3 separate regions of the Homo sapiens genome follow, and regions 1 and 3 are each linked to region 2. Evidence: fine-mapped expression QTL. A gene starts in region 2. Each other region holds a variant in brackets. All regions are shown on one strand. Distances are from middle to middle. Region 1 has its middle 49 kb from the start of MINAR1. Region 2 holds the start of CTXND1 (cortexin domain containing 1). Region 3 overlaps CTXND1 (cortexin domain containing 1).

The links. PIP is the estimated chance that this variant, and not a neighbour inherited with it, causes the effect.
Region 1: its variant is the best candidate, but not a certain one, in a credible set for the expression of CTXND1 in cerebral cortex (GTEx, PIP 0.89).
Region 3: its variant is the best candidate, but not a certain one, in a credible set for the expression of CTXND1 in tibial nerve (GTEx, PIP 0.50).

Annotation. Positions count from the first base shown.
Region 1 is chr15:79,475,860-79,486,726 of GRCh38, forward strand. No RefSeq gene overlaps it. Among named protein-coding and RNA genes, the nearest start is that of MINAR1, 49 kb to the left of the region's middle. The variant A/AT (reference allele first, on the strand shown) is at 5,016.
Region 2 is chr15:80,246,156-80,257,022 of GRCh38, forward strand. It overlaps CTXND1 (cortexin domain containing 1), which reads right to left and starts at 6,058. Exons shown (of 3, transcript NM_001352888.2): 1 at 5,852-6,058.
Region 3 is chr15:80,189,899-80,200,765 of GRCh38, forward strand. CTXND1 (cortexin domain containing 1) reads right to left here. Exons shown (of 3, transcript NM_001352888.2): 3 at 5,583-10,867. Among named protein-coding and RNA genes, the nearest start is that of FAH, 42 kb to the left of the region's middle. RefSeq lists an enhancer at 7,345-7,514. The variant G/A (reference allele first, on the strand shown) is at 4,299.

The DNA.
Region 1 (10,867 bases), 770 kb before region 2:
TACATACTAGATGCTTAATAAATATTTGTTGAATGAAGGAGTGAATGCATGAATGAATGAAAATCTTTGATCTTCTATCTGTCTTGGAACGTCCATTCTAATGAGTGTGCAGATAACAATCAAATAGGCAAATAAATAACTGTAATCAGCAATGAGGGCAATGACGGAAAGGAAAGGAAACATTGGGAGAGATCAACTTGGAGAGCAACAGAGGAACTTCTTGAGTTAGGGTAGCCAAGGCAGGCTTTCAGGAGGAGGTGGCATGTGAGCAACTGAGGAAGAGGCAACTTGCAGTGAAAAGGTCCTGAGGTGGGAATGAAGATTAGAAAGAAGCCCAATGTGTCTTGAACTTACTGAAGTGGACTAGGGAACATGGTGTGAGGAGAGATTAGTGAAGTAGACAGGGACTAGATTATGTAGGGCTTTGCAGGCCACAATAAGGAGGTGAGGTTTTATTTTAAATATAATTGGAAGCCTTTGGAGACTGCAAGGACTGAAATGAGCTAATCTGTACTCTGATTTATATTTTTATCACATTGCTCTGGCTACAGTGTGGAGAATGGAGTAAAGAGAAGCAAGGGTGGAAACAGGCAGACCAGCAAGTGGGTAATTGCAAACAACACAGGGGAGAGATGGTGGCGGCTTAAACTAGGATGAGACCCTGGAGTTGACCTTGTATCTGTAGGTGCAGCCAGCTGGACTTGCTGATGAGGGCAGTGGGGGAATTAGACAAGTTGATTAAGGAGGGCTTCCTGATTTTTTGCCTTTAGAAACAGGGTAGGTGATGGTGCTATTTAATGTCTTGGAGAAGACTTTGGAAGGAACAATTTGGGGATGGGAAATGGCATCTAAGCCTTTGTTTTAGACATGTCACATTTGAGGTTTATCAGGTCCCTACAGGATGAAGTTTGACATAGCCTTGCCTCTTCTTCTCTGTCTAGATAATTCACCTTTAAGACTCTGTTCGGCATCATTTTCTCTAGGAAGTCTTCTATATCAGTCACTTTAAGCCATGGTATGCTTCCCTAACAAGCAGTTCCCCAAATCTCAGTTACTTATGACAACGGTTTGCTTATTTCCCATGTCACATGTTCATCATGGGTCAGGTGCAGCTGGATTTCATGTCTTCTTAATTATAAGACCCAGGCTGAATGAGCAGCCCTACATCTGGGACATGCGGGTCTCCTGACAGAGACGAAAAGAGACACGGCAAAAGTCCACAATAGTTCTTGGCACACAATCCCTGCATTCACATTTCATTGCCAAGCCATGTCATAAAACCAAGCCCGATGTCTTCAGGTACGAAAATAGACTCCTTGCTCAAGGAAGGTCCTAAGAACATGGTGCCTGGTATGGAAGGGAAGCAGTTATTTTTGAAAAATATTAACTAGCATAGTGCTGGCTAGTGTAGGAGCATGTTAGGTATGCAAATTCTCAGGCCCCACCCTAGACCTGAATCAGAAACTTGCAGGAGATTGGGGCTGGAGGCCCAGTACTTTGTGATTTATACAGCCCTGTAGGTGATTCTAAGTCATGCTCAAATTTGAGAATCACTGATCTCACATACCTGCTGTGACCCTCTTCCTCCACCAACTAGGTCAACAGCATTTCCCTAACATTCACATCCTATCACCGTTGTTACTACATTATGCTATAGTTTGATGCACCGGAACAATTATGCAGAGCCTTGCAGGTTACATTTGCCAACCTAGCTCAGCTCTAGGGGTGCAGTCCATATGCGCTTGGGACCTCTCTTTTGGGGAGGATCAAGTGGTATCTGGGTTCCTAGAAGTCACTATCCTCTGTCTATATATCCTCACCCCAGCCATTGCTCCACCTGCTAGACCGGTCCAGTTGCCGCAGCACACCCAGGTAAAGAATGGTCCTGTGAAACCCCATCTCTACTAAAAATACAAAAACAAAAAAACTTAGCCAGGCTTGGTGGCAGGTGCCTGTAGTCCCAGTTACTCAGGAGGCTGAGGCGGGAGAATGGCATGAACCTGGGAGGCAGAGCTTGCAGTGAGCTGAGATCATGCCACTGCATTCCAGCCTGGGCGACAGAGCGAGACTCCGTCTCAAAAACAAAAAAACAAAAACAAAAAAAAAGAATGGTCCTGGTAACACGGTCTCTGCATACAGGTTGATGCTCCTATAATTTAGCTTTGACCAATCACCTTCTCCTGACTCCTAGCCATCAACCTGGCTCACCGTGTTCTCACTTGACCTCTACTCTGACACCAAGTTAGCAGTGCCATCCGCTTGTCCATCCAGCCTCCTGCCATCCACGTGGCAAGCAACGCTCTGTGGCCAATGCAGGTCTGCTGCTCACCAGTCAGAATAACTGTTCCTTCAGGTCCTAAGACTGGCCAGGTTCCACTCCCGGCCTCTCCTGAACAGATGTATAATTCTTCAGAATACTAGGGGCCCCAATTTGTATTTGGATGGTCAGGAAATACACAGAGAAGGGGTCTTAACTGCTCGTCCTCGTCCAAATCAGGGCTGCACTGTGTCCACCCCAGACTGTGCATTGCACCATGGTGGGTGTTTGGTGAGTACAGAATGCACAGCAGTGATCATCACACTAACGGCATTAACCCTGGTTGAGCACTTAGCATGTGTCAGGTGATCCATTAGTTAATCCTCATAACCATCTTAAGAAATAGAAATGGTGGGCCAGGCGTGGTGGCTCACGCCTGTAATCCCAGCACTTTGGAAGGCCAAGGTGGGCAGGTCACCTGAGGTCAGGAGTTTGAGACCAGCCTGGCCAACATGGTGAAACCTTGTCTCTACTGAAAACAAAATTACCAAAATTGGCCGGGCATGGTGGTGCATGCCTGTATCCCAGCTACTTGAGAGGCTGAGGCAGGAGAATCACTTGAACCTGGGAAGCGGAGGTTACAGTGAGCTGAGATCGCGCCACTGCACTCCAGCATGGGCGACGGAGCGAGACTCTGTTTCAAAAAAAAGAAGAAAGAAAAAAAAGGAGGAGGAGGAGGAGAAACAGTGACTGCCCCTATTTTATAGTTGAGAAAATGGAGGCTCAGAGAGGAATGCCTGAGATTACACAGCTGGTGTCTTGAATCTTGGATTCAAAGCCTGTTTTAAAGTATAGTATATTAATAGAAAATGTAAGATATAAGGCCAATAGCTAGGAAGGTGATTGCCATTAAAAATATAGTTTCCAAGAGAAGGGGGCAGACCATGCCACGAGGTCCACATAGGAAGTACTGGAGTGGGTCAGGAGGCAGAGAGAGAGAGGGAGTTGTGGGTAGGAGCCTTTGTTGTGGTTTTTGAGGGTGGAAGGGGCAAGGTAGTGTAAGCAGACTTAAGACTGACCAGTTCAAACAATTTCATATGGGCTGTCGCTAGTTGTGGCCAAGCCAACAGTGGCCCAGAGTGTAAGAGCCTGATACAAAGGGTGACTGGAGTGTGGCCTCTGGATTGGTTGGTTTGCATTTAAAAAGTGCAGTCACAGGTGAGTTGTTCACTATCACTAAGAACTAGCTAACTCTGGAAGAGGCAGTCCATCCAGGGTCAGAAGGCCCCAGATATCAAAGCATCAGAACACAGAAAATAAAAGACATGGTTAATACAAAGCCAGGCAATCGATTCCAGAGTTGATCCTGCCCTTTGCAACCATTTTTGCCCTGGGGGTGGGTATGCCGGTGTCTGGGAGGGGGTGCGATGCGTGGACCACATTCATCTGTGCTTGTTTCTGTTAGACATTTCCCTGTGGGTTATTCATTAGCTCCCCACTTTAGCCTGGTAAGTGGGGATTATTATTTCAGGCCAAAGAAACCAAAGACATGAGTCTTGCACCAGATCTTCTAACCTGTAAGCAACACAGCTGGGACTTGGACTCAGATTTGAGTGAGGCCAGGTGCTGTACCTCAAAATCCCAAGTGGTGTTTGGCTTGGAGTTTGCACTGGAGGAGGACCTACTGCTCCATGAGCCTAGACAGAACCACTCCCATGGGTTTACACCAGAAGTCTAAATAAATTGGCCCAAACCAGCACATCCCAGCTCAGAGATGACCATGTGACAACGAATACCCAGGAAACTGAAATCAGACAGTTCACAAGAAGATGTGGAAGGGACACAGTCTTTAGAATCAGACAGACACGGGCTTGATTACTGAATCAGCCACTTTCTAAGCTTGAGCAAGCTTCAGCCTCTCTGGGTTTCTGTAAATGGAAACAATAACCTTAAGCTCACAAGTTTTCGAGAGGATTAAATGTAAATCCATATACAAAGCACCCAGCTCATGATAATCACTCAGTAAATGTTAGTTGCCTTCCTCTAATTCAAGGGGCTGTGCCAGGCAGTTGGTCAGCCCAGGAGGACAGACAGGTGGGAAGTAAGGGCCAGGTTGGAAGCCAGTGGTCACAACCACCAGGTAGCCACAGTTCCAAAGGCTGGCAGGCCAGTTGGGACTGCTCAGTGGCTCACCTGAGGGTTTAATGTGAATGTCCTGAGGTTACAAAAACCCTGAATTAGGAGCCCAGAGCCCACAGAGAAAACAGGGAGCAAAGGGACTGCTGGGAAAGAGGTGAACATTGGCTGGAGGAACTCTACATAGGCTTCCAGGGATTTGGCACAAGGGTTCAGGAGTCCCACAAGAGGGAGAAGAGCTCTGACATCATGTTCTGTCATCTGGAAGCAGAAAAGACTGTAGAGAACTGCGCCACAAAGGCAAACACCTTGTCCGGAGTGTGCTTACCAAGGGCAGAATGGAACAGCCAATCTGATGAGCCACTCACTCAGCCCTGCAGCTGTGTATCCATTCATTCACCAGTTCATTCAGCCATTGCCCACTGAGCACCTCTTGTTAATTCTGATGATCAGAGAATGTTAAGAAAAATACAACTTCTATTGCCAGGGAGTTTGAAGTCAGCCACAAGAGACAGATGTGTAAATAAATAATTATAGCACAATGAGATGTGGGTGCAGGCTGTTGGGAGTAAGAGGGTTAAGTAGCTGGAGAATCTAGCACCAGAGACGAGATGGCATATCT[A/AT]TTTATTGCAAGGTGAATAAGAGTTCACCACCAAAAAAAGAAAATAAGAAAGCTGTTTCAAATAGAGATAACAATGTGGGCCAGGACATGGAGACGTATAAAAGGAAGGTATCTTAGGAATACGGAGAAGTTCTGTCCTGCTGGAATACAGAGCTTTTAAGTGAAGTGGAAATAATGGAATGTCAATTTTCCCATCTTACTACTGAAGAAACTGATGCTCGTGGGTTGAGCGTTACACAGAGAATATGTAGTAGAACAGAGAGTCGAGTCAATATTCTTTGCCTCTACATCCCATATTATTTGCATTTCAGCACATTTTCTTTCTGTGGAGTGTGCTTTAACAATTAGTTTGTAAGTCAGTATTTCGGAACTCAGAGTAATTTTCCTATACTACTTCAGCAATGGAAAATTTATCTGAAAAAAAAAGAGTCAAGATATAGATGCAATTACATGTAAATTCAGTATATAAAGGAGGCATTTTATACCTCTAAGGAAAGGATAGATTATTTAGAAAATTGGGTTAGCACAATTGGCTAACCATTTGTGAAAAGCTAGACTAATGCCTTACATCTCTCACCAAAATAAATTCTACATGGCCTAAAGAATTTAATATTAATAAATATAAAGCCATTAAGGTACTGGCAGAAAATATAAGTTAATATAAAGACTTTTTCTATGCATGACACCAAGGAAATTGTACAGAAAGCTTTGATAAATACACCCGCATACGTAAATGAGTCAACTTCTGCTTCTGGCCGTGACAGAGAAACTGACACTGGACTTGTTCTCCCACAGTAAAAATTTAGAAAACTGAATATATAAAATGAATGAAATAATTGTCTTCACGCATGATACAATAGGCAGCACAGGACTGTGATATCTGAATAACAAACAAGGCCATCACTCAGGTCCCCTGGCTATCTGTCTAGGGCACTTTCTGGACCATGATGCGGGGAGACCAGCAGAGCACAGTGATCTTGCTGAGTTGAGAAACAGAGATCGTAGTTTGTGGAGACCTATACAGCTGGACATCAGACCCAGGTACTGGAGGGGAGGGAGCTATTCAATAAGAGAAGCTCCATAAATCTGCATATGCACCCTCTTGAGTCTTCAGTCGAATACTAAATAGCGCATGCTTCAGTGATACTCCACGAGGCTGGACAAAGAACTACTACTGGGTAACTGTAAACTGCACAATTCTCAGAGCTCACAGAGACACGGGAAACATTTGAATTCTGACCAGCCATAATGGGATGAAATAACCGAACTCCCAGTACATTCAGAAGAGACAATGTCAAGGTCATGCTTTAGCAATAGGGCTAAGGTAAACCTAGAGAAAGACTGCTCTAGAATTGTCCTGAACAAGTCTCCAGAAAGCCACGCTGCTCCACAGTACCTTAGCTACCTGACAAGGCACACTTCAGCACATTTTTTTTTTTTTTGAGATGGAGTCTTGCTCTGTTGCCCAGGTTGGAGTGCAGTGGCGTGATCTCAGCTCACTGCAACCTCCACCTGCGTTCAAGCGATTCTCCTGTCTCAGCCTCCCCAGTACCTGGGATTACAGGTGCCTGCCATCATGCCCAGCTAATTTTTTGTATTTTTAGTAAAGATGAGGTTTCACCACTTTGGCCAGGTTGGTCTCGAACTCCTGACCTCAGGTGATCCACCTGCCCCAGCCTTCCAACATGCTGGGATTACAGTCGTGAGCCACCGGGGCGCCCAGCCAGCACTCTTTAAAGTACATCAACACAGTCTAGATACTGAATAATGTAACATTTACAATGTCAAACACACAAAAACTTGATAGATGTGTAAAGAAGCAGGAAAATGTGAGCAAGAAAATTAAACCCATAATTTAAAAAATCCAATATATATAAACCTGAAATGACTGAGATTATGGAAACAGCAGGCACAAATACTTTTAATCAGGTATTATAAATATGCTCAATGATTTAAAGAGGATTTAAAGTTGTTCATTATATTTTTTCATTATGCTTCTAATATCTATATTCTGTAGTGGCATTGCCACTCTCATTGCTAATATTAGTAATGTGTTCTCTCTTTTTCCTGATCAGTCTGGCTAGAGATTTTCCTATTTTATTTATCTTCTTTACAAACCAGCTTTCTGTTTTTGTTTTTTTTAATTTTCTCTATTGTTTCTCAGCTTTTTATTTTTTTTCCATTCTGATTTTCATTGTTTTCTTTCTTCTACTTACTTTAAGTTTATTTACTCTTCATTTTGCTTGCTTCTTAAGGTGGAAGCTAAGGTCATTTATTTGAGATTTGTCTTCTTTTCTAAGATAGGTGTCTAGTGCTATGAATTTCCCTCTAAGTACTGCTTTCATAGCACCCTGCAAATTTTGATACACTGTTTTCACTTTTGTTCAGTTCCTAGTACTTTTAAATTTACCTTTTGATTTTTTTTTTTTTTTTTTTGACCCACAAGTTATTTAGAAAAGGCTTTTGTTTCCAAATAAATTCCAACATTCCTTAAGGGAACTAACACTATTCCCGGCCCCGCTGAGAACTGAATACTGATCCCTCTAATTATTTTGGATTGTTCTTTCCTAGTGTTGCTGCTCAAGGGAGACTCTGAATACATCTGAGTTCTTTCTCTGTGCAACTCTCTTCTCTTCATTACTCCACTGGTGCAATCACATGGCTCACCTTGTTTGTTTCCTGTCTCTCAAGGATTACTGTCCTTTTTTGCCTGATTCCTGTGTATTGAAAACTACAATTTTATCTATTCTGTCTGCTTGTTTTTGAGTTGTTTCATGTGGGAGAACAATCTGTTTGTTATTACTCCATTTTGGTCAGAAGCAGAAGTCCTTACACTATTCACTTTTTAAGCAAAAAATTAACAACAATATATTTGGGATTTATAAAATGTACAAGTAAATTGTTTGACAAAAGTAGCACAAAGTTCTGGTGGAAAGTAATGTAAGTATGTATCTGCAAGGCTTTTACATTATATACGAAGTGGGATTAGACTACTGGAAGATGTATGATAATGTGTTAAAGATGTTTCCTGAAATAGAAAAATCAATATAAAGTAAAACAAAGAAGTATAGCTAATAATCTAGTAAAGGACATAATATGGAATATGAAAATGCTCAGTTAAGAAGGTAAGAAAAGTGGGGGAAAAAAACACAAAAAAAGATGGAACAAAGAAAAAATAACAAAAAGGATAGACTTAAGCCCAACATATTAATAATGACATAGTAAATAGTGTAAACACTCCAATTAAAAGATAGAGATGGCCAGGCATGGTGGCTCACGCCTGTAATCCCAGCACTTTGGGAGGTCGAGGCAGGCAGATCACCTGAGGTCAGGAGTTCAAGACCAGCCTGACCAATACAGAGAAACCCTGTCTCTACTAAAAATACAAAAATTAGCTGGGCATGGTGGTGCATGCCTATAGTCCCAGCTACTCGGGAGGCTGAGACAGGAGAATTGCTTGAACCCGGAAGGTGGAGGTTGCAGTGAGCTGAGATCACGCCATCGCACTCCAGCCTGGGGGACAAGAGCGAAACTCCATTTCAAAAAAAAATAGAGAAAAAAAAAGGCAGAGATTGTCTAATGAATGAAAAAGTAAGACTAAGACTCATCTCTGTCATGTCTACAAGAAACACACTTTAAATCTAAAGATACAGGTTAATAACAAGCAAAAAGATGAAAAAGATATCCCTGTAAATGCTAGTCATAAGGGAGCTGAAATGTCTATGTTAATATCAAAGACTTCTGAGCAAAGAATATTACTAGAAATAAAAAGGGTAGTCCATAATAATAAAAGAACAAATGCTTCAAAAATTCATAGGAATCCTAAATGTGTGTCCATCTAACTATAGATCTTGAAAACTCTTGGAGCAAAAACTGACAGAACTAAAACAAGTAGGCTATTCAAATATTTTGCTTCCTTACTGAATTTTGTCCTTGTATGTTTATTTTAATAATTAATAAAAAAAAAGATATGCTAAAATCTACTATGATTGTGTGTTTTTTCATTTCTTTTCTAAAATTTTATTTCTGTCCATTTTTTTAATATTCTCTGCACCTATGTCATTAAGTGCATAAACATTTATATTTGTTATAACTTTTTGGTGGTTTGACCCTTTTTCATTAAGAAATATTTGCCTTAATTTCTACTCATTCTTCTTTCCTTAAAATCCACTTGGTCTAATGTTGGTCTACTTACATCTGTTTTCTTTTATTTAATGTTTGCATAACATATATTTTTCCCACCCTTTTCTTTTCATTTTTTTTTTTTGAGATGGAGTCTTGCTCTGTTGCCCAGGGTGCAGTGGCACCATCTCGGCTCACTGCAACCTCCGCCTCCTGGGTTCAAGGGATTCTCCTGCCTCAGCCTCCTGAGTAGCTGGGATTACAGGAGCACACCACCACGCCTGGCTAATTTTTGTATTTTTAGTAGAGATGGGGTTTCACTATGTTGGCCAGGCTGGTCTCTAACTCCTGACCTCAAGTGATCCGCCCACCTTGGCCTCCCAAAGGATTATTTTTAATCCAGTATGAAATTCTTTCTATTTTATTTGGTATATTCTACTTACTTTTAATATGATTACTTATAGATTTTGGTTTATATCTATTATTGCTATCTATTTTTTTTTCTACTTAAATGTTATCCTTTTTCTATTCTTTCTTTTCTTTTTTTGGAATAAGTGGGTTTTTTTATTATGCTATGTGAACATCCCAGTTAGGGTGATAGTTATCTCTTTAAGAACACCTTATTTTAGTGATAACATTTATGTGTAACTGGCCTGAAACATGCACTATTTTCTTACTACTGTCTAACATAGATTATCACATTTACCACTTCTCTGACAATGCAAAGATCTTAAAATGCTTGAACTCCATTAATCTACTTCTTTTACACTATTGTTGTTTTATATATTTTATTTATTATTATTATACTTTAAGTTTTAGGGTACATGTGCACAATGTGCAGGTTAGTTACGTATGTATACATGTGCCATGCTGGTGTGCTGCACCCACTAACTCGTCATCTAGCATTAGGTATATCTCCCAATGCTATCCCTCCCCCCTCCCCCCACCCCACAACAGTCCCCAGAGTGTGATGTTCCCCTTCCTGTGTCCATGTGTTCTCATTGTTCAATTCCCACCTATGAGTGAGAATATGCAGTGTTTGGTTTTTTGTTCTTGCGATAGTTTACTGAGAATGATGATTTCCAATTTCATCCATGTCCCTATAAAGGACATGAACTCATCATTTTTTATAGCTGCATAGTATTCCATGGTGTATATATGCCACATTTTCTTAATCCAGTCTATCATTGTTGGACATCTGGGTTGGTTCGAAGTCTTTGCTATTGTGAATAGTGCCGCAATAAACATACGTGTGCATGTGTCTTTATAGCAGCATGATTTATAGTCCTTTGGGTATATACCCAGTAATGGGATAGCTGGGTCAAATGGTATTTCTAGTTCTAGATCCCTGAGGAATCGCCACACTGACTTCCACAATGGTTGAACTAGTTTACAGTCCCCCCAACAGTGTAAAAGTGTTCCTATTTCTCCACATCCTCTCCAACACCTGTTGTTTCCTGACTTTTTAATGATCGCTATTCTAACTGGTGTCAGATGGTATCTCATTGTGGTTTTGATTTGCATTTCTCTGATGGCCAGTGATGGTGAGCATTTTTTTCATGTGTTTTTTGGCTGCATAAATGTCTTCTTTTGAGAAGTGTCTGTTCATGTCCTTCACCCACTTTTTGATGGGGTTGTTTGTTGTTTTCTTGTAAATTTGTTTGAGTTCATTGTAGATTCTGGATATTAGCCCTTTGTCAGATGAGTAGGTTGCGAAAATTTTCTCCCGT
Region 2 (10,867 bases):
ATTTCTTGCTCTGAATTCAAAGGACTCAGCTGTTAAGCTACTAAAATCTTTGTCTTCCAAAGAAGCAAATTTTCTGTAATTCCAAAGTTCAATTCATATAAAGGTGGAAAAAATACTATGAGATCAAGTAAGAATAGAGAGAAACTTCCTAGTGTATAGGTTGAAATTGGAGTAATTATGGACTTTTGTTGTGGAAGAGTCATGGTTAAAAGGCACCTGGCCTCAGATCTGGGCTTTGCTGTTTATCCGTTTGTGATTTTTCCTGGGTTGGTACGATGAAGATCGGAGCCACATAAGCCTGGACAGGGAAGCTTTGGCTACTGGCAGTGCTGACAGCCGACTGCGTCATGACATTGGAGGCAGCAGGAAATTATGAAGTGCCCTTGTGTGAAACCCGTTGTGGGAGTTAATGTGTGTCTCTCTATGTTTAGAAGGAGAAAGAGGGCATTCATTTTTCTGCCCAGGCAGAATGAACTGTGGACTTTGGGGATTTGGAGTTTGAGTCAAGCAAGTATGCAAACTGCTAATTTGCCCAAGCTGGGTCAGTGATTCTCAGATTTTAGACTCTAATGTTTATCGTGCCTAATAATCTCTCATAGAGTTTGTTTAAAAATGTCTGTTATCAGCTCTGTGCCAGGAAGTTGCGGTTCAGGGATCTGAGGTTGGGTCCCTGAATCTGCATTTTACAATGAGCCTTACAGTTGATTCTTTGGCCATTTCTGTGCTGCCCACTTAGGGACACTGAAAGGTTTGTCCTCGCAGTCGGATTCAGATGTCACATACATTTTCCCAGGCCTGCTGTGTGACAAGCACGGTGCTGGTTAATTTCATATAGTCTCCTCTGTCAGCCTGTCTTAAAACTTAGGAGGTCAGTATTCCGCTTTCCATTTTACCCATGAGAAAATTGAGGCTCAAAGCAGTCGGGTGGTGTGTCTGTGGTCTCGCAGCTGGAAGTGGTGGAGTTAAGATTTGAAGACAGGTCAGGTGAATTTGACACCAGGAGGTCCCCATGCTCCCCTAGGAGAATATCTCCAAGGCTCCATAATTTGTGAATCCAACTGCTAAGGTGTTGATGACTAGATCTCTCCCTTCCCCATCCTCCCACCACCTTAGCAACATTCCACGTGTAGGAGCTTCCTCAAATTGTCCCTCATCCCCATCAACTATGCTTGTGAGGTGCATAGTTGCACCCCTAAGAGGGGTGCCTTTTGTCTTGTGTGAATAGTCAAAGGGTTAAAGTAAAAGGCTTTGTTGCTGGTCTCCATTGGAGGCAGAAGTCCCCTCCTTGGAATGACAGATGAAGAATGCCTCTTCTGAATTGCAGGGGTTGGGTGCTCCTGGGGAGGGTGGGGAGTGGGAGTGGTAAGGGAGGAATTTAGTCATAGGTCGAGATCTGACCCTTGGAACACTCAAATCCACCCTCCTCACACTAACATAGAAACCCATTATCTTGCTGAGGAGTATCCTCAGAAACCAGAAAAACTGCTGAACAAGAAGACAAATTTTAGGAGAGTTAGATTTCACTGGGCATGCATATTGATTAACAATAATTTCCTTGTTCACATGGAAATGTGGACACCAGGGAGAGGCAGGATTTCACAGTTTAGTTTCCTAAAGGTAGCAACTTTTCTCTGTTCTTCTGCAGACACTGAGAATGAATATATTAACATTTTAACTGGGCCCAGGGAAAGGGAACATGCTTTGACTATCACCGCACAATTCTGCCATACTGTTAATGCTGTTGGAACCCAGGTCACTACTTGGGAGCTGAATCTATAATGACAATTTGTCAAGTCAATTGACCTAGCGAAAAAGTGCACCCCTCTGAAACATCAGCTATCGTAGAGGGCACCAGACTTATCTTCCAAGAGGAGGGTCATCTTGGGAGCTGAACAGCCTACTCTCAATGGAGAGGATGCCCTCCCATGCCCTCCAGGGACCTGAGGCTTGTGGCTCTTCCCGTGCATGGGCCTCATTGCTGTGCCAGCCTAGACTACGCCCTCTCACATACAAATGAACCAACTCTAAAGTCTCATTGTCTTTGATGTCCTGGTCGTACAAGTCATACCTGATTCGATGCAGGCAGCCCAACCTGGGAACAGACCTGTTCCCTCAGGCCTAGTAGCAATGCATCAAGATAGCCTGCGTCTGATGTGGGGAATCTTGGGGCAGGTTTGCCTGCACAGGGGTCATTTCTACAGATGATCCTACGGCTTATAGGAGACGCAGCGGAAAGGGTAAGGAGAGAAAGAAAGGTACATTAGGGAAACAATTTCAGGAGTTTTGCCATCACATTACTCTCCTGGCTTAAAACTCCTCAATCTCTCCCCATTGTCTACAGTACCTAACTAGATACCATTTCCTAAGCCAACTCCAGGCAGTTGTAGAAAAGGATTCTGAGGCCTCGTTCTGGCTCCATGGGAAAGAATATCATAATTGATTAGCAATGTCTGCTCTAGGCAAGAGAGGGAGGTGCGACAAATGTATGCCATTAATTTGCAGTTTTCTAGAACACAGGGAGCTCCGTCTGAGTCAAGAAGCCAGGGTAGCCGGAGGGAACTGGATGTGATCATAAAGGCCATGCAGTGTCAGGCCACTTGTCAGCTATTAATAATATCAGCCTCTAAATAACAGACAGGTGTCAGTATGCCTGCTGCCTCTGGTCAACTCGTGGTAACCACCTGGGCATAGAGATTCATGTCTATGGAAAGAACATTGTATTTTAATTACCCATGTCTGCCACCAGGCTGGGTTGCAGGAGTGGCAGCACAGTTCTCTTTCTTTCTTTTTTTGATTTTTTTTTTTTAATTTGGTAGAGACAGGGTCTCACTATGTTGCCCAGGCTGGAGTATAGTGGTGCAATCACAGTTCACTGCAGCCTTGAACTCCTGGGCTCAAGTCATCCTCCTGCCTCAGCTTCCCAAGTAGCTGGGACTATAGGCATACCACCATGCCTGGCTAATTTTTAAAATTTTTTTGTGGAGATAAGTTCTCACTCTGTTGCCTAGGCTGGTCTCAAACTCCTGGCTTCAAGCGATTCTCTTGCTTTGGCCTCTGAAAGTGCTGAGCCACTGTGCCCAGCCTCAATTCCCTGTCTTTCTGACCCTGCTCCAGTCTCAGGGGAACTCAGCTCTTTTCCATCACGCCATCCTAAGGACAGGGATAGAATGCCATTTTGGGGTCTGTGGGATTCTAACGGGACAAGGGCACTAGGAGTCAGATCTTTTAGAGGAAGAACCCTACTCAGAATCCCAGTTTTCCTACCTCATTTAACCTTGAGTAATTCAAGTTGCTTCTCTGATCATTAATTTCCTTGTCAGGAAAATGGGGATAATAAACCTGATAATTAAATGATGGAATATATAAAATGCTTAGTATATACTAAGGGCTTAATAAATGGAACTGACTTTTAGTAATTGATGATTCTGGGGTTTTACAAATAAGAACTGAAGATAAAAAAGGTGGCTTGCTTAAGGTCATCTGACTTAGTGGCAGAGCCAGGACTAAACACTGATTTGTCCCCCACAAATGCCAGTGTTCTTCTCCCCGGTGTCCACAAGGCAACTGATATTCACAGTGCTGATCTTGAGTTGTCAGGAAACACACAAATTCCCATTCGCTGACTCTCTGATTGTAGAAAGCATGTAATGTGCTTTAGAAATATTTCCATCCCAAACAGTTCTAAATGTTGTCACTTTTAATAGCAAACTTAAGCTATCTAAAAAATTTGCAGACACGGACCGGTTCCAGAGCCTTCAATGTCAAAATTCACAGTCATTATGGTCTTCTTCTACATCAGAACTTATTAGGAGCATTAACCTCAGTCTAGGAACCATGTCAGTTTTATAAACACTGTTCTTTCTATTATGGCAAGACAGGATACTTAAAGGACATTTTCCTTGATACCATTTCATTTTCTATTTACGTCATGAAAATAGTATTGAATTTGGGCAATACTACACACAAACTATTTTAGGGTTGCAGATTTTGAGTCTGTGCTGTAATAGTGTGGCCAGGTAGTGTAAATATTTGTTGGAGAAAGATTAACTAGCAAGGCAGTATATTCAGAATGGCTGCCTCTTTCATTAACCCTGTAAGGAAAGGAACTGGAAAGACACACGCAATTCTGTAAATCACAATTTATAAGCAAGCAGCAATTGAACTTCTAGTTGAGCTAGTTTTTTTTTTTCAGGCCAATTAAAGTTCATATTATTTTTTAAACAACTCCTATTCTGCCATAACTTTATTTTAAATCTGCATCTTAAACATGTAATGGCGAGAAATTTGCTATAATTTTCCACATGTATTTGGGTTAGAGATACATTATGCTCTATGCATTCATTACTTGCATGCCGTTCAAAAATCATAAACAGTGTTACTGGGAAAACTGATTGGGAAATTAATCCTTTGAAACAACAACATATGAATGCAATGATTACACAGAATAAATAAACAGCTTCCCCACAATTTCTCTTTTGGATAAATGTAAAGTCATTAGTTTCAGAACAGTTTTCCCAAGGACGTAAGGTTTTGCTTTTCCTCCGTAATGCCTCCTCAAAGCTGGTACATATCTTATGCTGAGCCATCCCTGAAAAGGTAGCCTTAATCAAAATCTAATCTATAAATCACCTTTAAAGCCTTGAATGTTTGGCTTTATGAGGTCTTACACACACTTTGCAGGTTCGCAAAGACCACAGATCAGATTATTACAATTCCTCTCAAGATGTGGCTTAATGAGGGTGAGGGAAGTATAGAAGACTTCAACTCCAGACCCTCGGAACTAGATCCCCTAGTTCACTGGATACATATTTTATGGAAAAGGGTAAGATTGTATCACAGTGTTAATCCAGAAACTCGAATCCTCTGATTAGAATCAGAGGAGAACTGAGAAGAACCTGCCGGCGGATGCACGAGTGGGTTAGAATGGAACTTCTCCCCACGAAGGCAGCACAGGCTTCGATGGAGCTTTTTTCCTGGGTCCCGAGCCACATCCTGACAGGCCACTGTGGCCCTATTGCACGCCTGGTGAGGCGGTGCATCAGCTTGGATTTTCTAACAGGTTCTTTTCCAGAACTTTTGCTGCGGGCACGGAGACTCTTACCAAATTCGGCTCCATAATACATTCCCCAAAACATTAGAACCCAGGATAGGTCTACGCCTCCACTGATACGGAAAAATATATGAAAGCGTGGATTAGGGTTTTTGCCACAGATGAGAACAAAATCCAACGGAGACTTGACATTTCTTTAGAAAGGCTGCCACCAGCAGAACTTTCCCCAGAAGTTACATCCGTGCTGACCTTCATCAGTTACATTGAGAAAAAATCTGTTCTATGTGACTGTCAGCCACAGGAGAGGGAATTTTAGGCACTGAACGTGACGAGAAGGACTTTCTAACTTTGATTCAGTTTCAACTCACACTCCCCAAACCCCTCAATGGCAGAGAGGCCGAGGATCCCCGAATGGGGAGGTGAGGCTCAGAACAGCGAGGGTGCCTGAGCACAGCACCACACTCTCCCGGTTTCTGAGCCCCGAGCCCCGCAGTGGAACTCGGGCCGCTGCGACGCGGCTCCCGTGCGGCTCCCACCGAGGCTGCTGTCCCCTGCCGCGCGGGTCCGGCCCTCCCCGCCGACCGAGGCGCGCCCCGGGCGCAGTGCCGCCGAGGAGGGGATCGGTCCCAGTGTCCACGCGGGTCTCCTCGCCGCCGCGGCAGGGCTCGGCCCGACTTCAGCGAGCAGATCCTCCGCCTGCGGCCGGTGACCCGCGCGACGCCCCGGCGGCACCGACAATGCTGTGCTCCAGCCCCGCAGGCGCCGCGGCAGCGGGTCCCGGGATGCTCCCGCGGTCCTTACCTGGCGAGGCCCGTCCCGTGCGCTCCCGGGGTCCTGGCTGGGCCGGCGCCGAGCCCAGGGCGACCGCGGATCGCCGGCTACGGCGTTTCCCGGTGACGGGGGCGCGGGCTCGCGGGGCGCGGGGGGCGCTGCCCAGGCCCGGCTCGGCAGGAGTCAGAGCCCCCAGCGGCGCGGGCGAGCCCGGGCCAGCAGCCGAGAGGGGGCTCTGAGCGGAGCCGCGGCCGTCCTGGCATTTTAAAGGCGAGGCAGCTGGACGCTGTTCAAGCGGAAACGCAGAGAGAAACTTCAGCCCCCGGGGCAGAGCGTTGGCAGCGAGGGGAGGGGGCCCAAGAGCTCCTTGCAGGCGCACAAACCAATCTGGGCTATTCCAATATGCTCTTCAAATGCATTTTCTTCAGATATTCTCTTTACAGTTAAAAAAAAAAATCCCCCCAAACAACAACGACAGCAAAACCCTCTCAAAGCCTTCTCCTGCAGTATGCTTCATAGCAAGCCAAACATTTCCATTAAAGTTAGGGGCAAGAGCAGGGGGCCGGTTTGGGACGTCTGGTCAATGCAATCAGACAAGAGAAGGAAATAAGGTGTAAAAATACTGAAGTTGTGCCTTTGTTAAAAAAATATATATTCTATATGTGTGTATATATGTATATATATTATATATATGTGAAGCGGGAGAAAAATGATTACTGTTTGCAGCGGATGTGATTGTGTAGTTGGAAAGTGCAAACTGAAGATTGTTGAAATAATAGCCTTTCCAAGGAATTGGCAGGCTACAAAATAAACATACCAAATTAACGGTGTTCTTGTGCACTTACTAACCATTTTGAAAGGCAAATAAAAAATCCCATTCTCACTAATAGCCAAGCCACAGTAGCTAGGAAAAATAAACTTATCATGAAATGTGAAAGAAAAAAAAAAAAAAACAACCTTCTCTACTAGGGGACTAGAGAAGACTTGAATCTATTATGACGCACGCCTTATTCTTGGGCAAGAAGAAGTAAACACTGTAATCCCATCATGTCCTCTTTATCTGTCAATTCAATGCCATCTCTATCAAATTCCAAGTAGAATTTTCTTTTTAACTTGACATGATTCTCAGTGTCATGTGGAAGAATAAAGAGACCAGGCAACAAAATGTTGATAAGGAAGAGCATAAGGGAAGCTAGCCCTGCTGGATATTAAAATGAAGAAATGCTTGCATGCATAAATGAATAAATGAATAAATAAAATACATTGTTTGAGTGCTTACTATTTAAGGAAGTGCTCTACGTGGATTAATGCATTTTATTCATCACAACAAGCTATGATGCAGGTACTGATACTGCTGCCATTTTCAGATAGGAAATGGAAGCCCAAAAGTGTAAGTATCACACTTACACTTTTGTGTAAGGTCACACAAGTAGGAGTAGGGGATCAGGGGTTTGATGCAGGCGTTCTGCCTGCAAAAACTATGCATCTATGTGCTTCAACCCCATCACACGACACCGCCTCTGTCACAAGGCAAAAACCAGCACATTACTGGTCCGGACATGACTGTTCAATGGAATGGGATGAAGAGCCCAGAATTAGAAGTACATGAGAAACTGTGGTGTTTAAGGTGGTACTTCATGTTAATCAGATAGATAGTTTTTATTTTATTTTATTTTATGTTTGAGACGGAGTTTTGCTCTTGTTGCCCAGGCTGGAGTGCAATGGCACGATCTCGGCTCTCTGCAACCCTCTGCCTCCTGTGTTCAAGCAATTCTCCTTCCTCAGCCTCCCAAGTAGTTGGGATTACAGGCATGCGCCACCACACCTGGGAAATTTTTGTTAGGTACAGGGTTTCACCATGTTGGCCAGGCTGGTCTCGAACTCCTGACTTCAGGTGATCTACCCACCTCTGCCTCCCAAAGTGCTGGGATTACAGGCGTGAGTCACCACGCCTGGCCCAGATAAATAGATGTTTAAATAAATGATATTGGAATAACTAGATAGTGAAAGTGTGGGGATCTCATTTTCTACCTAGTTCCCCAGACCAAAACAAATTCCAGATCCGTCATAAATTGAACATAAAAAACTGAAGTCAAAAAATAATTAGATGAATATATACATAAAAGTCATCATAAACCTAGAATTCTGAAAGCCTTTCTAAATATATCATAAAAGCATAAAGGAAAAGACTGATATATATGATTATAAAATATGCAAATAAATGTCTTCATGGAAAAAGACACCGTAAACGGAATTCAAAAATAAACAACAAACTGGAAAAATATTTGCTATCCATATGAGATGGGGTTACTAAGTTTAACAGAGATATAAACCTGGTTGAATTGGAATTTCAGATAGGCTATGAATAATTTTTTAGTATGATTATGTCCCATTCATCATTTGTCTGAAAGTCAAATTTAACTTGATGTCCTGCATTTTAATCTGAAAGCCCTAACATAACAGCAACATTTTAATGTAGATATCTTACAAAGAACGCTTATAATCATTTTTTTTAAAAAGATGATCACCACAATAGAACAAAGAATAAAAGAGATGAGCGGCCAGTTCACAAAAAAAGAAATATAAATGTCCCAAACAAGAGAAAATAACTGTCCTCTCTAGCAGTGAAATAAATGCAAATAAAAAATTTAGGAAGTTGTACTTTTTACCTACTAGCTGGCAAATTTTAAAATATTGAACAAATTCAGTGCTGCTGAAGGGTCTGGAAAAATGGGCATTCTCTCTCACTGTTTATGAGAATGTAATTTGGTACAATATTTCTAGAAAGCAGTTTGAGGACAAATATCAAATTGAATACTTTATGTACAAGCAAATTCATTTTCAAGAACTTATCTAAAGACATCATCTGACAAGTGGACAAAATATATATAGCAGATGTTTGTTGCTTTGCAGAAATAATTTATAATAGTAGAATATTGGAAACAACCCAAATATCTGTCAATAGGGGATTAGTTATTGAAATATAATTAAATCATAATACTATGCAATGAGACTTACTGTGATGTGTGATGCAGGCATTATTCTTTTTTATTCTTTGTTTTTGAGACAGGGTCTCTCTCTGTCATCCAGGCTGGAGTACAGTGGTGTGATCTCAGTTTACTGCGGCTTGGATCTCTTGGACTCAAGCGATCCTTCCACCTCAACTTCCCAAGTAGCTGGGACTACAGGTGCATGCCAGCACATCTGGCTAATTTTTGTTTTGTTTTGTTTTGTTTGTTTGTTTTTGGTAGAGACATGGTTTGCCATGTTGCCTGGGCTGGTCTCAAACTCTTAAGCTCAAGTGATCCTCCTGGCTTGGCCTCCCAAAGGGCTGGGATTACTGGCATGAGCCACAGTGCTGGGCCGATGCAGGCATTATTCTAAACACTGCCTGTGTAATAACTTGTTTAATCATCAGAACAAAACAAAACAGAAACACTGTAAGAAAGTACTATTAGCATCTCCATTCTGCAGAAGACAAAACACACAGAGAGGCAAGCAACTTTCTCAAGGTCTTATAGCTGGAAAATTGAGGACTAGGATTTAAAGCAAGGTGTTGTCGCTCCAGAGACCACACTCTCAGCTGTTATGCAATGTTGTGTACTGAATGGAATCCCATGATAGCATGCCAGAATAAATGCATCCATAGGGTAGAATACCAAATAGGTGTTAAAAATGACAATATGATTCTGTACTTACTGACATAGAAGATATTTATAACATATTGTTAAGTGAAAAAAGAAAATTTCAAAACCACATACTTATATGATTCCATTTGCATAATGTTGAATCTATTTATATGTGGTTATACATATAGACAGAGAGAAATATCTGGATGAATAATCACTAGCATATTAACAGCCTTCCTTTCTGAGTGATGGGATTTCAGGAGAGTTTTTACTTTCTTCATTGTACTTTTCTAAATGGCTTAGGTTTTGGTATTATGAATATACTTTTTTTTGTTTGTTTGTTTTTGTTTTTTGAGACAGAGACTCTCTCTGTCACCCAGGCTGGAGTGCAGTGCCGCAATCTTGGCTCACTGCAAGCTCCACCTCTCGGGTTCAGGCCATTCTCCTGCCTCAGTCTCCCGAGTAGCTGGGACTACAGGTGCCTGCAACCACACCCGGTTAATTTTTTGTATTTTTAGTAGAGACGGGGTTTCACCATGTTAGCCAGGATGGTCTCGATCTCCTGACCTGGTGATCCACCCGCCTCGGCCTCCCAAAGTGCTGGGATTACAGGCGTGAGCCACCGTGCCTGGCCATGTTTTTTAAATATTTAGAAAAACAGGAAAACAAAATCCTGGGGGGAATTCCCATTTTATGATTCCATGCCTTAGTGTCTTGATAGTCTAGGTTTTCTGCAAGCTTGTTATTTCTCCCTTCAAATTCTGACAGCTGAGATACCTGGCTAGGACTCAGCCTGAAGGATCATGGGAGTTCCCAGCAGCAGGTAAACCCCAAGTATCCCCCATGCACCTCCTGCTGCCTCTGGCTGAATGAAGATCGTGCACTGGGCTATGTCAAGTGAATCTTGCTGCTATCAAAAGGGGTGCTGAGAACATGGGCAGGTCCCACCCATTCTTCATGACTAGTGTCTCATCTGTAATGTTAGATATATAGGTTAGGGCTCTAATTGCAAAATACAGAAATTATTTAATACAACTTACACTGGTTTAAAAAATAAGGCATATTCTCTTGAAGGTTTAGAGAATCCAGAGAGAGTAAGACAACCAAGGCACAGTAAGAACCAAGATGCAATTTACTCTAAAGAACTGCTGTCATCATCACCTCTAAGGATTCTCTGTCTACTCCCTGTTTCTGCTTCTGTCTGGGCATCAGTTTCATCTGTTTAATTCTACACTGGTGTCCTCTCCTCCTCAATCCATGAAAATATGGCAGTCACCTGAGTTTTATGTAACGTCTTCAGTCACCCAAATAAATTAATTTTTTTGGTCCTTAGGTTTAAAATTTCCAGACCAGGGCTTCCTTAACCCAGCTTGGGAGAATATCTATTCCCTTGGGCATCAGTCAGGATAGGCTGGGT
Region 3 (10,867 bases), 56 kb before region 2:
AACTCCTGTGCTCAAGTGATCTTCCTGCCTTGCCCTCCCAAAGTCCTGGGATTACAGGCATGACACACCATGCCTGGCAATTTTGGGGTGTAAAGTATCACAATTAATATTATCTCAAAGATTCCTGACACCAAAATGGATCTCAAAAGTGGTTCTATTTTCACATTTTCTCCCTTTCTTTAGTTTGGAAGCATATTCCCTTTAACACCCCCAGAAAAAGTAATTTGGCAGGGTTGTATCCTGAAGTACTAATTTGTTTTCTGTGTATCCCCTCTCTTTCTGTCCTCTCAGCAAGATTTCCAGGGCTGTGGGAGTATTTTGCTCTCCTTCCTCCTGCAGAGAGGCAGAAAGAAACTCGTGGGAGAGGGACCAAGACTGGATGCTTGCTTGCAAGCCTGTTTTTGTTTTTTAAAATTCTGCTCTTGAAAACTAAATAAGGCTGAGGCCAGTCTTATTTTCAGACTGTTTGCCAACAGCACACCAAAAAGTTGGAGTGACAATTTCTTTCTTGGAGAGGGAATGGAGTAGCATGGCACATCTATTCCCACCAAGGTCATGATCCTGGAAATAAATAGACCTTTGTTGTCTATGATGATTTGATCAATATCTGCCTTCATTGGATTTTCAGCTCCTTGAGGATAGTCTGCTTTTGCTTACTGAAAGTTCATCAGTACCTAGCACGTAAGAGCCGCTCGATGTATACTCATTCAGTAAGTGAATGAATTCTAGGAGAGCACTGGGAGCAGATTGTGTCTTATTGATAGGTCTACTTCTAGCATTTGCAGGGCCTAAGCTGAGAGTGCTCATGGAGTCTCAGTATTTAGGAGGTATAAACAAGCTATACACTGTTAAATAAAATACTTTCTATTCTCCTACCTAGATATGTTTGCTTTCATAATTGCAAAACAAACATATTTGCAAAGTGATGGCTTTTATGTGATTGAAAATTGGTAAAATATACAACTAAACTTAATTATCACCGCACTTGAAGAAAGTCGATGGGATGGCAATGTTTGGATGAGCATTAAAGACATAAATTCATGAATTTTATACTTTATACATTTTTAAAATCAGACTTTAATTTTTACAATTATTTTTCTTTCTTTAATTTCATTAGAATCATTAATTATGCTCTCCTGAGCTTTTCATATAATGTGTGGTTTATTGATGATATAAAAGATTAAAAAGTACATTGAATTATACTTCAGTGTACAAGAAGTAAATATCTTCATCAAAACTCTGTGTTAAAAATTGAAAAATTAAATTTTTCATATGCATTTTCAAAGTTAGTTTTCTTTGAAAATATTCAAAATTATTAATAATAAAAAGCGAGATACAAATAATTAAAGAGCTTTAATATTTAATCTCAAAATTCTTTAAATCAAAATGAAATGTCTAAATTCATTTTTTGAAAATGTAATAAAATCTGTTTTTGTTTTGTTTTTTGATATGGGGTCTCACTATGCTGCCCAGGCTGGCCTCAAACTCCTGGGCTCAAGGGATCATCCTGCCTCAGCCATCTGAGTAGCTGGAATTACAAGCCCGTGTCACTGCACCCAGCTCAAAAAAATTAATTAAATCTTATTAAATATATTTTATAAAAACAAAACTACTTTGCAGTCTTAGTGTTCACTGTCCACTTAGTTGCCAAAGTAAAGAATTAGTATCACTCTTTGTTTAGGTTATGAGACCCATGTGCCAACGAGGGCACATGTTGTGAGTCCCTTCAGAACCACAGATTGGAAATAAAGTTTGGTTTTAAAAATTTATAAAGTAGGTATGTAGTTGATGAATTTATGTCTTTAATTCTCATCCAAATATTGCCATCCCATCAACTCTCTTCAAGGGCAATGATAATTAAGTTCAGTTGCCTATTTTACCAATTTTCAATCATATAAAAGCCAAAAAAGAAAAAAAAAAAGCAAGAAAGTGGATATTTGATATAAATGGGAAATGTCATTTGTTTGGGGAAGAATCAGTTACATTCTGGCTAGGAGGAAGTGTGTAACAAGTTGAATAATCATTCCTTTCTCTTACCTAAGCGCTTCCACTGACATGTCCACCTCCAGGGTTGGACCTGCCACAGTCCTGCGTGACATTCACACAGTCTCTTTTATTCTGGGGACACAGGGCAGGGATGTAAAGAAGAACTCCCCTGGCTTGGACAGTATTACTCATATTTGCAGTACAGGTTGAGCTGCACCAACCTGAGGCCCGAGGGATAGAGGTGCTTGTATGAATTTGAACAAATTGATTTGTATGTGCGTATCTGTTATAAGCTGGGCCCTCTGTGGCATGAGTTCCAAGGAAGCCCCCACTCCATACCTTACCCCAGCCTAAGGGCAATATTGCTTCTTTACCTCCATCTTTGGACCCCACACGGTCTCTGATATTTGTTTTGTAATAGCAGAGACTTGTTCATTTCACACAACTAGTGAGTGGCAGAGCTGAAACTGGATTCTAGAGCTTTCAGCATCTAGGACAACACTCTCCCCATTTATGGTCTAGTGGTATGTGGACTTTGATTTCGGCCTGTGGAAGCAAGATTCTCAAGGGCAGGGCTGTGCTCTATGCATCTTTGTGTCCAAAGCCCCTGTTAGACAGTAGTTGCTTCTAAATGTGTGTGGCATTGTACTCACAAAGTTCCCCGTTTCGTAGCTATAAGCTCAAGCAAACTCTTCTTTCAAATGATATTAGTGCTGTATTTGGTAATCTAAGAGAAGAAAAAAGGAAAAAAAAAAAAAACCTGTGTGCACCAAGGTTGGTCACTGAAGCACTATTTTTGTAGCCTAACTTTCAGCCTCCTGAATGTCATCAAGTCATTTAGCTTTCTGGGGTCTCTCTTCCCTTAATATATATTCGTGGAAAGCTTGAGCTGCTGTCCTATCTCCAAAGTGAAACCGCATATCTCCCCACTTAATGGGATGACTGCTGTGAAATGGAGGTGGCTTCTAAGGGACAGCGTAATCTTTTTTGGGGGTATATGTTGACCAGCAGCCTCTGTATGGTCAGCTGAAGTATTCTCAATTCTGGGGTCCTTCTTAGTTATGTAGATGAGGCAAGTGGACACTCCTTTCCTTGGAAAAAGGGTATAGTTGGATATAACCAGGGTGCCCCTCTCTTTGGTGCAGAAGGGTGGAGAGGGAGTGGACCAAATTGCATAAGAAGTCCAAGGGATGTGAGAAACTGGTATTCCAATCCTCCCTCCTAAATAGTCAAAGTTAGAAAATTGGTTTGGGTGCACTGGTTGGGTCCTGACTGAGGTCTGTTGGCAGGAAGAACACCCAGGGCCCTCTGCAGATTCATCTCCCTTTGTCCCTCCAGATCTATTCTCCATCCTTCCCTGCCCTGCTGTTTGCGCACCTGGAGGCTGACCTCGTTGGACAACATCACCCAGGCTCATGCTCTCTGGCTGCTGGTTAGGATTGGCCAGTGGAGGTGCAGGCAGAGGTTGGAATATAGAGGAATAAAGCAGCAGAGAGCATCATCCTCCTTACTCTTTCCCTGCTGAGCCATGGTTTGGGCAGTGGCTGTGTCCCACTATGTCCTACTGCTCCTGTGGGCAACATAACCACAGTCTTTGCTAGATTCTGGTGCCACTGTTTTCTCCCCAGGCAAGGGGCAGTAATGGCTTCTTATCATTGTTAACCCTGGATTAATCATCAACCCTTACTGATTCTCTTTACCTTACCTGTCCCTCTGAAAATTGTCCCAAAATTAAACCCTCTTCATTGAACCTTTTGAATTTGCCGCTTAAATCCTGATGAATAAAGTCATTGGTATTAAGGGTGACAATTGGACCCATGGAGTGAGGGCTATTATTGTAGAAGTGGCCCCATGGAAGCCCTTGGAACTGCCTCTTTGTGACAAAATAGTAAACCAAAAGCAATTCTGCATCTTCAGGGCAATTGAATTGTGCCCCCTTCAAAGACTTGAGAGATGCAGGACAGGTGGTTCTAATCACATCACTATTTAAGTCACCTGTCTGGCTTATGCAAAAGCCAGGTGGGTCCTACAGATTTTCATAAACACAATCAGGAATTAATGCCATTTCAGGAGTTGTTCTGGATGTGGTATCTTTATTAGAGAAGATCCGCTCAGCCCCTGACACCTGGTGTGCACCTGGTATTGTACCTGGTGACTAGAACAGTAATTCTCAAAAGGTAGGTCTGGATTAGCAGCTTAACCTTGGAATGTGTTTGATGTACAATTTATAGAACTCCACTGAAGACCACCTGAATTAAAAATTCTAGGGGCTTACCAGCTGTGTTAGAATGAGCCGTCCCGGTGATTCTAAT[G/A]CATACTGAAGTTTGAGAACTGTCATATTAGAAATAGTTTCCATTGCATCACAATCAATACAGATAATCAGAAGGAGTTCACCTTCACCTGTTACAAGACTGCGGCACACCCTAAATGCATTACCTCAGGGATCTGCCAATTCTCCTGGTTTCTGTCATATGATATGAGACCCTTATCATCTTGACAGCCCATAGAACTTTATGATTGCCTGCTACATTGATAACATTATGCTAATTGGATCTGGTGAATGAGGACTAGCAAGTGCTGTACTGCCACATGCTTGCCAGAGAGGGGAAGAAAACACATGTGGAGGTTCAGTGACCTGACACATTGGTGAAACTTCTTGGGTTCTAGCAGGCTGAGGCCTGTTGGAATATCCCCACTAAGATGAGAAACATGTTGCTTCACCTTGTGTCTTCCACCATAAAGAATGAGGCTCAGCAGTTGATGGATCTCTGGATTTTTGAGGCAATATATAGAACATTTGTGTGTGTGTCTGATGGATTTACTGGTTACATCATAAGATTGCTGGTTTTGAATGGGGCCCAGAATAATACAGGGCTCTAGAAAAGGTATATCCAGACTGTGATGAAAGCTACTCTGCCATTTGGACCTTAAGATCAGCAGATCCAATAGTGCCAGAAGTATCTGTTGCAAATGGAGTGCTGTATGGAATTCCTAACCATCTCCAATAGGAGAATCACAGTGTTGACCCAACTGAACAGGATGGGAAGAGAGGGTCCAAGGCAGTCTTGGGCAGATATGTGTGAAAAGACATCTTTGAAGGGGCCCTGGGTGTCAAGATATTCAAGAGCCATCTAAATGCCTATCAGAGGGCATCCACTGCAGAAAAGACTCTCAACGATCAGCTGGATAAGATGACCCAACCTGGGGGTGTGAGCCTCTTCCTCTGTCTACTCTGGTGTTTGCTCAATGACATCATGAACAGAGTGACCATAGTGGAAGGGATAGAGGCTATCAACACTATGGGCTTTCCCTTGTGAAGGTCCATTGGTTTCCATAACTTCTGGATATGTAGCCTTCCAATGAATGAGACCAATGCCAAGCCCCTGATATGGCACCATTCCCAGAGATGGGTGGTAGGAGACAGACCAACCGCTTACTTGGTAGCAGGTTGATTACACTGAATCCCTTTCATCATAGAGGGCAGTAGGAATAGACACATATTCCAGATATGGATTTGCCATTCCTGCCCCTCCCTGCCATTTGTGGTGTTTCATTCTTTCATTTTGTGCTGCTAAAACAGAACAACACAAACTGGGTAATTTATAATGAATAGAAATTTATTTGGCTCACGATTTTGGAGGCTGCAAAATACAAGATCAAGGAACCAGCATCTGGTGAGGACCTTCTTGTTGCATCATAAACATGGTGGAAGGAATCACATGGGCAAGAGAGAAAAGAGGACCAAACACCCCCTTCATAACAAACCCACTCTTGAGATAACTGCATTAATCCATTCACTCCGCCCTCATGGCCTAATCACCTCTCATTGGGCCCCAGATCTCAACACTGTTGCAATGGGAATCAAGTTTCCAACATATGAACTTTGGGGGACACATTCAAACCACAGCATATTCATCTCAGCATATCCCACAAACATGGCCTTTAACCAAGAAACCTTAGGTTTTGTGGGTTTGGAAATCTCTAGTGACCAAGAGGAACTGCTTCCACCAGGGAATATAGTTATGGGTCTGTTAAATTGGAAGATGATCTTGTGCCATCTGGGGCTCCTTATGTTGAAATATTGGCAGAGAAAGAGATCACTGCACTGTCAGGATGGTTAACCCCAATATCCAAGGGAAAGTGGGGTTTCTGCTACACAATAGGGGCAAGGAGTACTAGCTTTGGAACCCTGGGATTCGCTAGGGCACTTGGTACTCCCTGTATCCCTTGTCCTCATTCTGTAAGCCTGAGGTGGGGGCATGAAATTAGATTTCTAACAAGCTCCCCAGAGATGCCAATGCTGTCCATCCGTGGACCATAGTTTGAGTAGTGTTGCCCTAGAGCACCTGCTATTCTTTCTGATAATTTTACAGAGCTTCCAGGTGAGATCTTCAAGGCCTCTTCATGTTCTTTAGGAATCTGTGGATACTGTGGCAACTCATTGAAGACACGGCACTAAGAATTTGAATCCTCTGTGGATGAAGATTTGGGTCATTCCACCAGATAAAATTCTCCAACAGCTAAGGGACTGCCAGAAAGTAGAGGGGCTATGGAATGGGTGGTGGGAGAACAAGACTGCAGTTACCACTCTGGGCCTCATGACCAGCCACAGAAGGGGGCACTAGCAGTTGTGCTTTACAGGAAGTGTTCCACTTACCCGGGACTGGCTACATTATGATTTAAGTTGCAGGAGGGAGTGGGACTAAATTGCTATCACCCCCAGACAATATGGCTGCTGGTGAGATTTTATGTTTCCCCTGTGCCGGGGACAAAATATTTTTCTCCCATCTAAGCAAAGTTTGTGAATGGCTGCTAAGTGGTAATAAGATGAATTGTGCTGGTTTTTCTTCTTTTGCTCCAGTGTGCTGCCTATGTGGACCGTATCACCCAGGGTCCCCTGACCTTTAGCTTCTGTTGTTTTTGGCCAATGGAAGACCCAGACAGGAGATTGGAGGGCAGGAGGCAAGAGGTCAAGGTATTTATTCCCCCAGCTCTCTTCCTACTGAGCTGCAGTGGGTGCAGGAGTTTTGATCCTCTAGCTGTGGCCAGGGCTTCCATTGGGTGACTCCTTCTCCATGGCTATAGCTCTCCCTGGGTTCTAGATCCTTCTCCTTGTCTCTCTAGGCAAGAGATGGTAACAGTTGGTGGCCTGCCTGTTCCTGGGTAGTTTGTTTTTGTTTTTTATTTTTAGAGACAGCATCTCTCTTTGTCGCCTAGGCTGGAGTGCAGTAGTGTGATCCTAGCTCATTGTAACCTCAAACTCCTGGACTCAAGTGATCCTCCCACCTCAGACTCCTGAGTAGCTGGGACTATAGGTGTGCAACACCACAGCCAGGTAATTTTTTTTTAATTATTTTATTTTTTGTAGATAAACAGATTCTTGCTTATGTTGCCAGGCTGGTTTCAAACTCCTGGGCTCAAGCAATCTGCCTGTGTTGGCCTCCCAAAGTGCTGAGATTACAGACATGAGCTACCTTGCCTTGTCATCCCTGGGTGTTTTACTGTTCCCTGTTGTTTTCCATACCCTTGCCCAACCTCTGTAAATATTCTTTCATTAAACTGTCTTCAATCAGTGCTTCGTGTGTGCCATCTCTTTCCTGCCAAGACACTGAAAAGTCCCAAGGAGAACCCTCCTAAAGGGAGAGAGTCTTTGCTGATGACCATCAAGCTCATAAGTAAGGGCTGGTGTGCCTGAGGCTGTGTGTCCCTCTGGACACAGGCAACCTGTCTTTGTGCTATGATTGGACAGAATAGCTGGGCACATGGATGTGGACCCAGATAACTCTGTTTGGGCACCTCTCCACAGGCTGGGCCACAGGACATTGTGGGTGGTCATTGATCATGCCTGGCAGAACCAGTCCTCAACAGCAAGACCTAGGGGGTATGAAACCACACTAGTGGACACACCAAACTTTGTAGTTCTCTTCACTTGGTGTTTGAAAGCAGGGCCAGCCCCTTTTGGATTGATTTAGCCTCTGAAGTTCTGGAAATTTAATGAGACAGGGAGACACTGATCTTTCAACTCGATAAGAACATGTAGACATTTCAGCAACTAATTGGAAAAAAATGAAATAGCTATGATGGGAATGATATGCCAGGATGGTAAAGCTAGGGTCCTACTATACATATCCACCTGTCTGAGCATCCTTAGAGGCCACATTTCTTCTAGTGACCATCACTCTGAACTCTTGGTTCTGCATATTTCTGCTACCCCACTTGTCTCTGGGACTGTTGGCCCCTTCCAGATTGTATTTCCCTAAGTGACCCACCACCGAGGTGTCTTCATTGTCCCAAAGACCACTGCTGCAGAGTGGTGGATCATTTATCAGACTTTAGAGAGGGCTTGGGGCAACATGAAGGGAGTGTAGCTGAGCACAGTACAAGCAACAACTTAAAACTGGCCACTAGGCACCATTGCCTGGAAAACCCACCACCCATTCTCTGCTTTGGAGAGTTCCTCTCCAGCCTGTGTTCTCCTTAAGTCCTGGGTTGTGGCTACCTTCACAGGCCTCCCATTCTCTAAATGCTTTTCATTTCTTGTCTGCCAACTTCTAGCCTTCAATACTTCTGTGCATTTCTTTTGCAGATCAGTTTATCTTTCTATCCACAACCCCAAAGTTCATCTTAGCTTGCCAGAAACGAGTTGAGACGCTCTGATCACAAAGGACCATCTCCTCTATGCTTCAGCAGCATAATGCAACAACTGAAGCCTGAGATTCCAGTTGCTTTTTTCTCCTTAATATGATCCAGTTCTTAGACAGGTCTCCCTCCCCCATGTGCTCCATGTGTCTCTTAAATGGAGAGAGTGTACTGTAAGTATTTATTCTCCCCTGTCTTAAGCAAGCTCCCCGGCTTCATCATATCTATCTTGATCTTTCTTTTTTTGCTTGGAACATGTACAACAGGGAAAATGGAAGAAATCCAAATATTTAATAATAGGAGTCTACATAATTATATATGTGCACTAGATGTCATGTTTTATGGCCATTAAAATGACAAGTGTGAAGAATGTAGCAGCAACATGAAAGTATACTTGTGATGTAATGTTAGGAGAAAGAGTATGATATAAAATTATGTAGCAGATCATCTTTATGAAAAAAAATCTTGCATGAGGACAATGATTAGAAGGGAATATATGGACACAAAATGAAAATTGCTGTTTTTTGGAGGCTTGGGTTGGGAGTGCTTTTTATATTTTCCACCCTTCCTGAAATGCTACTATTTCCTGTTGCCATCAAACAAGAGTCAAGAGATAAGGTGAAACCCATTAGCAAATCTGAGTGTGGAAAAGAATTAATTAGGACCAAGGGATTCTCAGGCAGTGCTTCTTAAACTTTAACGTGCACATAAACCACCTAGCGAATCTTGCTAATATACATTCTGTACGTAGGTCTGGAGGGGGCTGTGAGTTTGGGTTTCTAACAAGCTCCTCAAGTATTGCAGAGGCTGTTTGTCCTTCAACCACAGTTTAAGTTGCACTGCCCTGGAGCACCCTCTTTTTCACCCCTGAGGGTTCTAAAGTGTGTCGGGGAGGTCTGGAAGACCTTTTCTTTTTCCTGGGGTCTGTTATTAGCTGACTGGGAGTTGGTTCTAGTTTGCATTGTAAATGCATGCTGATGAGCTTTTCACAGAAATGCCTGGCTTCTCAAGGTAGGCTTCAGAGTGAGGGCTGCTGCTGCTGAACCTGAGGCAATGCACAAAAGGCTTTTGCTTTAGATCCTCCCCATCATACAGGGCCTTCCCTGCATCTTGGTTCACTGCCTTTGCCAGCTGTCCCTTCGTGCATTCCACAATAGTGGGGATAGGGGTGGGTAGGAGAGGGGTATGAGAGGGATGACAACTGGATAGCCCCTGAAATGCTGCCTGAAGAGCTGTGGCCTTGTCCACATTCAGGGGTCACCTAGTAGTGATAGTGCTTTGGAACCCATTTTCCAGGTGGCCTGGGCTGTGGTGGGGACTAATGGCTGGGAGGCAGGCAATGAGAAAGAAGTCTTGAGCTTCTTCACAGCTGCAGGTCTCTTGGATGGGGATGGAAGGCCACAGCTTGGAGGGATGGAATAAATGCACTCAGAGGAAGGGGAGCTCAGGTGCTCTCATTTAACTTCGTACCATGTTATGGGAAAACTGATGACAAAGGCAATTATGTAAATTGGTAGACGCCATATCCCTTGAGGTCAGGTGCTGGGAAAGGCTGCTGTGAGTGTTCCTCTGACCAAGTGGTTCCGGCTGGGAGATTTGGCCTGTAGGAAGCAGCCCTCAGAAGTTGAGAAAAGCTGAAGGTGCCAGGCTCTGTAGGGGCAGGGGGCACCCAGAACCTCTGCTCCTCCCAGCTCAGACCCCTGGCTTCTCCTGGGGTGGTGAATTCAAGAACATTCATGTTTGCCCATGTTCTCTCATTTCGTCCTCACAACAACCTTGCGAGGTAGATGTTATTCCCTCACTTTACAGGTGAGGAAATTGGGGCTCAGAGAGGCTGAGTGAGTTATTTGGGGTCCTCTAACAAGGAAGTAGAGGAATTGGGACTTGGGGCCGGTTTTGTAGGCTCTGCTCTAATGATTTTGCTGCAAGGTCATAGATGTAGGTGATGGAGTGGGAGTGGGGTGGAGGGCAGAAAGAGGTGGGAGGAGGGAGGGCCTGAGAAGAGCCATCATCGATGACTTCTTCCTTGCCCCCCAACTCCGACTATAGCACATTCATAGTATATTCACTCCCCTTTCTGTCCTTTCGTTCACATGAGGTATATGCAAAAAATAAAATTTTAAAAATGACAAGGCTTTTCCTATCTTACAATGAGGAAACTGAGGCGCTGGGAGGTGAAGTGACTTGCTCAAGGTCGCATTGTAACCTGACTGGTAAATGCGAGACTAGAACCCAGGTCTCC